Linked DNA regions of Homo sapiens: region 1 is linked to region 2. Evidence: fine-mapped expression QTL. A gene starts in region 2. The other region holds a variant in brackets. All regions are shown on one strand. Distances are between the middles of the regions.

The links.
Region 1: its variant is fine-mapped to the expression of TIAM2 in whole blood (INTERVAL, PIP above 0.99).

The regions. Positions count from the first base shown.
Region 1 is chr6:155,221,828-155,226,219 of GRCh38, forward strand. The region is part of intron 15 of TIAM2 (TIAM Rac1 associated GEF 2); the gene reads left to right. Among named protein-coding and RNA genes, the nearest start is that of CLDN20, 40 kb to the right of the region's middle. RefSeq lists an enhancer at 1,927-3,126. The variant C/CT (reference allele first, on the strand shown) is at 1,700.
Region 2 is chr6:154,992,647-154,997,038 of GRCh38, forward strand. TIAM2 (TIAM Rac1 associated GEF 2) reads left to right here and starts at 2,669. Exons shown (of 27, transcript NM_012454.4): 1 at 2,669-2,846. RefSeq lists enhancers at 2,563-3,170, 3,171-3,776 and silencers at 2,617-2,756, 2,847-2,926.

The sequences.
Region 1 (4,392 bases), 230 kb after region 2:
TGGAGACCTTGATATAATTTTGCTTTCTGTGGGAGAAGAAAGCAGGAAGTTTGATTTCTCAGGCCAAACTAGCCTCAGTGTAAATACCATTTGCAGGTTCTTGCCTATTCTTCTTCTTATTTATTTATTTATTTTTGTTTTTTTGAGAGGGAGTCTCACTTTGTTGCCCAGGCTGGAGTGCAGTGGCGCGATCTTGGTTCACTGTAGCCTCTGCCTCCCGGGTTCAAGCAATTCTTATGCCTCAGCCTCCTCAGTACCTGGGACCACAGGTGCACGCCACCATGCCCAGCTAATTTTTGTATTTTTACTAGAGACGGGGTTTCACTATGTTAGCCAGGCTGGTCTCAAACTCCTGACCTCAGGTGATCCACACTCTTCAGCCTCCCAAAGTGTTGGGATTACAGGCGTGAGCCACCACACCCGGCCTGTTCTTGCCTATTCTTTGGGGAAGCCACCTCGACATGGGGTACACTCGGAGTAAGAACACATGGGTTGGGTGGGCGTGGCTCACGCCTGTAGTCCCAGCACTTTGGGAGGTTGAGGCTGGTGGATCACTTGAGGCCAGGAGCTCAAGACCAGCCTGGCCAACATGGTGTGACCCTATCTCTACTAAAAATACAAAAATTAGATAGGCATTGTGGCTCGTTCCTGTAATCCCAGCTACTCGGGAGGCTGAGGCATGAGAACTGCTTAAGCCCAGGAGGCAGAGGTTGCAGTGAGCCAAGACTGCACCACTGTACTCCAACCTGGATGACAGAGCAAGACTCTGTTTCAAAAACAAAAAACAAACAAAAAAAAAAAACACAAAAAAAACCATGGGTTTTTTGCCCTAAGTCTTACACTGAGGAGCCGTTTCTTCATCCTTGGGTAAGTTGTCAAACTTCCCTATCTGTGAAACTCAAGGGTCCGTCTGACCAGCTGTCCTGCCCTGATGTCTCTCCCTGTCTGTCTTTCTGCCTGAATGCCTGATCCAAAGCAGCTTTCTGCTAGATATCCCTTTTTATCCCCATGAATATGGAGAGCTGCTTAGAAGAAGAATCTTAGCAGAACCCTATTAGAATTTGCTTCGGTCGTTTATTGTCCTTCATGCATTTCATTGAAGCTAAAACCTGTAAGATTTTTGGAGGCTTCTCAGGTAATGGTATGCGAAGGTCAGGATGGTTAGATACCGTATTTCCAGATGCTCTCTGCTCTTTTATGCACTTACGTTATTTAGGAACTTATTTCAAGCAGACCATTTGAGAATCTGAGGAAAGCTATGGGTCCCCAGAAGATTGCTTATGCACATACGTTAGAAATTGCAGACAATTCCAGGGAGCTCCCCAGTCTTACGATGTTTATTCACAGCTTTCCCTGTTAGGAATTTATGAACCGTCAGTTTGTGATCCTTACTTTGAGTAAACATCTGAATAGCCTAGCCTGTGTCTTAATATTATTGATATTGCAGAATCAGTTATCAAGTACCTGCAATATGAACAGCACTGTGTTTATATAGTCAAGTGATATTTTGAACTTTGTTTTTATCTTAGTCTAATTGCTTGGGTGAGATTAGCTATTAATGCTTTATTTTTTTAATGTGCTAAGAGATGTTGAGGAACGTTAAATAAATAACAACCCCTAGATGGCAAATAAATTATTAGGTTGAGACCAGAATAGATTATATTGATGATGGTGGTTAGACATCCCCAGATTTTTTTTT[C/CT]TTTTTTTTTTTTTTTTTACTCTGCACTTCAATGGATGCAAACCCAGGTTGTTAAACACCAATCGCAGCATTACGTGCTGGGATGTTTTGGCATTTTGAAAGTTTTATTTTCTATCATTAGTGAACAAAATGGGTTTTTTTTTGGAGTAAGAATTTTAACATTTTGATCCCAAACCAAACTTTTATGGATCTCTTTAGTAAAATAAATAGCTGTCTGATGGACTAGGAGGGGTGTTTTTTATGCTCAGCGTAAGGGACGCTCAGGTGGCTGTGGCTCCTGTGTTCCCCGGCAAGGGCGTTGCCAGTGAATTTCACCCTTCCCCTTTCCATGTCAGCAAATTAGCTAAGCCCTTGTTGTCGTTCGCCCTTTTTCTTTTAAAGAAGTAATAGGCACAATTACTATCTAATTTTGGCTTGCCACTGTGTGGGTGCCTGGAATCTCATCCGATCTTTAATATTTACCCAGGGGGGTGGGTGTAGTGTCGCATTATTCATTCACTCATTAAATCCCCTTCACCGAGGCCTGCTCAGATGCTTGCCATTGTTCAAAGTTCTGAAATCGTCACCTGGCTGCCTTCTGTCAATATTCTTGCGTAGAGATTGTAGTCCAATGAAAACCTTGTACTGAGTGAAAGAAGATGTGTTTGAGTTTCAAGGCATTTTCTGTGCCTTTCATGACTCATAGCAGATTCTCACCTTGTGATAAAGTTCCGGCTCCACAGTGGTGGCTGCTTTTGCTTTTGCAAAAGTAAGTTGTGAGAAATTGTTCTGAGTCATTTTGCAATTTCCTCTATAGACTCAGCTAAGAGTAGATGTGTGTGTCATGAGTAGATGTGTCTGGAGTTGAGGGAGGAGGGGTCATGGAAAAACTCTGCCTGGAAGTGCTTCATCCAGGTACACATGATGGTATTTTCACCATCTCAAACACTAGCTTCTAACTGCTGAAGGTTAAGATGGGATCATTCGTTTTGTAAATCCGTCTCCTGCTGTCTTGATAATAACATGAAGAAAAGGGCAAGAAAAACATGGATGTGTCATTAGTATGGAAGGAAGGAGGAGAATGGAGGTTTGTTTTAAAGGCACCCCCAATTCTCTTTCCCTCTTTCATCCTTTCGTTGGTTCTTGCCCCTTCCACACCCCGACTGTGTTTGTTCAGCCTCCAGCGCATGCTGCCGCCTCTGCTATTCACCTGCCTTTGCGCTCTCTCATTCTTTGCTGCCACCTGAGTCCTCTGGTGTTTTCAGAAAACAGCTGGCAGAGGAGGAGGCTCTGAGATGTGCAGTTGCTTAGAAGGTTCTGGCCTGGCATCTGCACAGCGGGGATTTCATCACCAACTGCTCAGAAACCACAAATGCTGCATGCCTGGAGGAGTCCTGCCATCTTCCTACCTTGCATGCCACTCTCAGCTGGTTTTGGGATTTTCTATTTATTTGTTTGTTTGTTTGTTTGAGATGGGTCTCGCTCTGTCACCCAAGCTGGAGTGAAATGGTGCGATCTTGGCTGACTGCAACCTTTGCCTTCCAGGTTCAAGCAGTTCTCCCACCTCAGCCTCGCATGTAGCTGGGATTACAGGCATGCACAACTGCACACAGCTAATTTTTGTATTTTTGGTAGAGATGGGGTTTTGACATGTTGTCCAGGCTTGTCTCGAACTCCTGACTTCAGATGATCCACCCACCTCGGCCTCCCAAAGTGCTGGGATTACAGGCATGAGCCAATGCACTCAGCTGGGATTTTTAAGAGTTTATTCCCTTCTTGGTTCATTCAGGCATAGATAAAGGGCAGTCTGAGGGCCCGGGTGACACACCCATCAGGACAGGTTGGTGCTCTGCCTTCCTCTCATTTGAGCACCGAGGTCTTGAATTTGGGGCTTATACAGATGAGTTACCAAGATGGGGAAAGGTGGACCATCAAGCAGTAATACAACGTGAGGCTTACAGGTAACTTCTAAGTGTGGGGCTTTAAAGAAAGTCTCTGTTCACATTCTGTCACCCTCACTCTGTCTCTTCCATCTTTTTCTTGCCTGAGTGTCCTGGTTCTGCTGCCTTCTCTAGATCCCCAGCTCTTCTCACCACCAGGGATACCTGGCTTTGGTTCCCATGTATTTATTGATTTCTATTTTTAAGAAGTTTGATCAAAACTGTCAAGTTATTTATTGAAAATGATAGTTGTCTTAGTTTAAATCTTATTCCATTTCTGTTAGAAGTCAGTGTAGATTATAGAGTGGTAAAGTCTCAGATAAATACTTATATAAATAAAGATAGGTATTGTTCCATATAAGATTATCATTATTTTGAGAACCTGTTGATGAGGGTGCCAGATGTGACTGTTGCATTACTCAAATCCAGCAAAAAACACTGAACAAAAACCATAATTAAAGGGGCACACAGGGTATCTGTGCTCACTTTAAGGCAAGTAGCCCTTGGCAGTACCCCTGCTTAATTAAGGTTGCCAGGATATTAACATGTAATTGATGTTTTATATACTTATAACTTTCCTCCCAGAAGCTACAATTTTTTTGAAACCAGATTCCAAGCATTGTTTTAAGCCAATATTAGAAGAGAAAGTGTAGGGCTTTCTAAGCATGAAGAGGATGTGATTTCAGACGAAATCATAGCACCTGGACCCTGTCTCCCTGCCCCCATCCCATTCTTCATAAGCGATGAAAAGCATCTTTGATCCATGAAACCTGA
Region 2 (4,392 bases):
GAGTTTCCCTATTGGAATGCAATGGCGTGACCTTGGCTCACCGCAACCTCCACCTCCCGGGTTCAAGCGAATCTCCTGCCTCAGCCTCCCAAGTAGCTGGGATTACAGGCATATGCCACTATCCCCGGCTAATTTTGTATTTTTGGTAGAGACAGGGTTTCTCCATGTTGGTCAGGCTGGTCTCTAACTCCCGACCTCAGGTGATCTGCCCGCCTCGGCCTCCCAAAATGCTGGGATTACAGGCATGAGCCACTGCGCCTGGCCTGCTCTTCCCATTTTCTTTTGTCTTTCTTACTAACCTAGTCAATCCCCCACTACTCCAAGTCCCGTTATAGTTAATAATTCTTTGTATTAAACTTTCACTGTTGAAATCATTGTGTAGCCTCTCTCTTGGTTGGACCCATATGTACACACGTGGGTGGTATGGGAGCTCAGACTCTGGTTACTTGGCTGTCAAGGGATGGTGTCTCACAAGAGGAGAGGAATTAGAGCCATCTGGGTTCTATATATTTTTTCAAGTTTGTACAACAAACATGTTACTTTTATAATCAGAAAAATATTTTAAAATAGTGCGAAAAATGCAATAAAAGAAGCAAGAAAAATAAACACATACCAGCACCCCCCCACCCCCCGTCTCAGTGTGGTAGGTGTGAGTCAGAAGTAAGAAGTAAATAAGTGTTGGCCGGGCGCCATGGCTCACACCCTAATCCCAACACTTTGGGAGGCTGTGGGCAGATCACTAGAGGTCAGGGGTTCGAGACCAGCCTGGCCAACATGGTGAAACTCCGTGTCTACTAACAGTACAGAAATTATCTGGGTGTGGCGGTGCATGCCTGTAGTCCCAGCTACTTGGGAGGCTGAGGCAGGATCACTTGAACCCGGGAGGTGGAGGTTGAGCGAGCTGAGATCGTGCCGCTGCACTCCAGCCTGGGCGACAGAGACAGACTCCATCTCAAAACAAAGCAAGCACCGCCCCCCCCCACCCCACCCACAAAACAGTAAATAAATGTCAAGGAAGAAAAGGTCTTTGGAGGTGATGCTTGAATTGAGCATGGAAGAGTGAGTGGAGTGGGAAGATATTTTCCTAGGCAGAGCCAAGTGCGCAAAGATGCAGACAAGACCAGGGGAGGGCCTACAGAGTGGGAGGGGCCAGTCACTACTAGTTCGGTGTGTACAGAGCCTGTGGTGGTTGAGGGTGGAGAGCAGGTCTGTCCGATCCCCGCAAAGCCTGGAGGCTTCCTTTTGATACTGGGTGTGTTGTGGGAAAGCTGATTTCATTTGTCTTTTTGACTCACAGTTCTCCACGGATCTCCCGTTACGGAGACTGGGTCGTATTCACGCACTGCACCTAACTGACCAGGGCCCTGGCTGCTGTGCTCTGAACTCCAGCACTGGGATTGTGCCCAACGCCACCCTTCCCACCTGGCCGCTCCCAGCCAAGGACTGGTGGCGGCATGGACACGAAGGCAGGCAGGTTCCGGGGAGAATCGGGATCCCCATGATGCGTAATTTTGGCTGAAGGGCTCACGGATGATCTTGCTGAGCTTTTCTTAGACTGCAGGGAGGCCGGGATGGGTGCTTCCCTCCCTCCTTCACTTGGGCTCTGATTTGCAGAAGGTCCGGCCCTCTCCAGCTCTCACGGCTCCCTCCTCATTTAGTTCCACGGCCATTTCCCCCAAGAAAACCCTCCGCATCTAGTCCTGAGTGGGCGCTGCTTCTCGTAGGACCCACCCTAACACATGGCCTGCATCTACCTTCCCTTCCCTCTCCTCTCCAGGGTGCAGCCTTTTTCAAGGCGAGGAGAGTGATTCCAGGCAGCTTTCATTCCTGGGTCTCCTTAGCTCCCTCGCCCTTCCCAGCATCTGGGCCCACTGGGCCACTCAGGCTTTTCTAATAAAAATCGCAGCTTTGGCCCAGTGCGGTGGCTCACGCCTGTAAGCCCAGCACTTTGGGAGGCCGAGGCGGGTGGATCACCTGAGGTCGGGAGTTCGAGACCAGCCTGACTAACATGATGAAACCCCCATCTCTACTAAAAATACAAAATTAGCCGGGCGTGGTGGCGCGTGCCTGTAGTCCCAGCTACTCGGGAGGCTGAGGCAGGAGAATCGCTTCAACCCAGGAGGCGGAGGTTGCGGTGAGCCGAGATCACGCCATTGCACTCCAGCCTGGGCAACAAGAGCGAAACTCAGTCTGAAAAAATAATAATAAAAATCGCAGCTTCTCCACCTGGAAAGTCCCAATTCGACTGGGTCTTGGAGTGCCGACTCGATTGCCATCTCCGCTGCGAAGCCATCTCCTCTCAGAAGGGGAAGGAGATGGAAAGTCTCTGCGGCCGCTGACCTCAGTTTTGCGTGCCTTTCCTCGGTGGGACCCGGGAAGAGCCGTCTTTAAATTCCTTGGGGAAGGGACGGGGTCGCACTGGCGCATCGCATCCCCGGTAGCGGGCAGAGCCCCCAGCTCACAGTGAGCGCGTGCTCGATGTTTCTTGAATTGTTTTATTTGTGTTGTTCCAAAGAAAGCGCGAGGGACATGGTCCGGGACCAGCCGGGAGCTGGCGCGGGGGTCCTGGGCCTGACGCTGGGCGGGGCTGGGGCGTGTCCGGGGCGGGGCGGGGCGGGAGGTGCGGTCGCGGCTCGGGCCTGGCAGGCGCTGCGCGCGGGGCTGGGGCAGCGGTAACCGTAACTGTGGCCGCGGCCGCCGCAGGCGCACAGCGCGCGTCCAAGTGGAGAACAAAGTGACCCCCAGAACTTCTCCAACTCCTCCCGGCGTTCCCGCGAGGGCCACGCGCCGAGGGTAGCGGAGGGCGGCGCGCGACCGGCCCCACCGAGCCCGGCGCGCGACCCGAGGTAAGGGGCGCCCGGGTGAGGGCGCAGGAGGGCGACGACCCGCGCTGGTTGGCGGCGGCTCCAGGTCCCCTGCGGGCGGGGCGGCGCGCGGCCGGCGGTCCCCTCCCTTCCCCTTTGTTGGCCGCCCCTCTCTGCCCCCGCTTTCCTGGGAGTCCCGCGGAAGGTCGCGGCTGCGGGGCGCGGCCTGGCACCCTCTCCCCGGAGGGCGGCAGCGTCCGGGCACAGCCTGGCACGGGGGACGAAGCACTTTCCAGAAGGCTCTGAAACTAGGTCCCCTGGTCCCCTCGCGCTGCGCGACACGCCAGGACCCACTTTCAGCCCCGGTCCCATCCCGGATGGGAGGAGGCGGCGCCCCGGCCTCCTGATACCGAGGTTCTCGCCCAAAGCCGAGCCGTGGGTGCCCGGAGGGGAGCGCCCGCTGCGCCCACGCCCGCCCGGCGACCTCGGAGCCTCAGAAAGGCGCTGCGGCGAAGCAGGATCCCAGGCGGTCGGCTCAGCGAGTGTAGACCGTGCGGTCCCTGCTCAGCCCCTCCGGCCTTTCCGAGCGCGGGAGCCATCCCGGACGGGCGCGGCTCCTGGGGGGGCTGAGGTGCCAAGTTTCTGTGAAAGCCGACACGTTGTGCCCCTAATGGATCCTATTTACCAAAAACAGTTCAGAAAGAAAAGAGTCCATTCTTCCAGCCATTCGTTGCTGACAGCCGCTGGAAAGGTCTGGGAGTAACATTGCACGAGGTATTTCTATCTTTAAGGAGCGGCGAAATTTAATATTGATGAGCTTGCATGCCGTTTTTTTAAAATAGACAAATAGGTTAACTTTATTTAAAGAGGGAGAAGGCTGCTTGATTCCAAAGATAATTTCATTCAGGGGGAGGTTTTCCTGCTTTTCTCTGCAGAATTCAGGCAAGAGGCCACTTGGTGACACTCCTCAGCCTCCTTGGGTAATGGTGAGACCTTTATTTACTATGCGATGAAGGGCCTGGGATTCTCTTCTCATGGTTATTCACACATTCTACCTTTTGCTCCCCAAATGATGCTGACCACCTTATTTTAACAGACAACACCGGCTATCTCCAGTTCTCTTTCCAATAGATTTAAGCCAGAGTGTCTCTAAAATCTTACCAAGTTTCGTACAGGTGCGGATCATATGCTATAAATGTTTCAGTCCTAGGCTCTGGATAAAAAAGTGTCCATGGTTTTATAATTTGGGCTTAACCAGTAGAACTTGTGTGTATACACTCTTAGAAGTATTTCCTGATGTGCTTAAGATTGTTATGTTTTAAAAATATAGTATCATGATTGGTGCAGTTTTGTAAGCAAACTTTTGTTCCACCGGATTTTACCTGCTCACTTTATAGGAAAATAAAACTTGTTGCTTTAGGGTGTCAGAGGTTTTTGTGTTGGGTAAATGTAAAAGAACATGGCAAGGTATAACTGAAGAAGAGTTTATTATTTACTGTGGCAAAACACGCCCCTAATGACCTCAGAATCAGCTTTCAACACCTTCACATACCATACTAAGATGCTTCATAATGTGGCACCTGCCTGC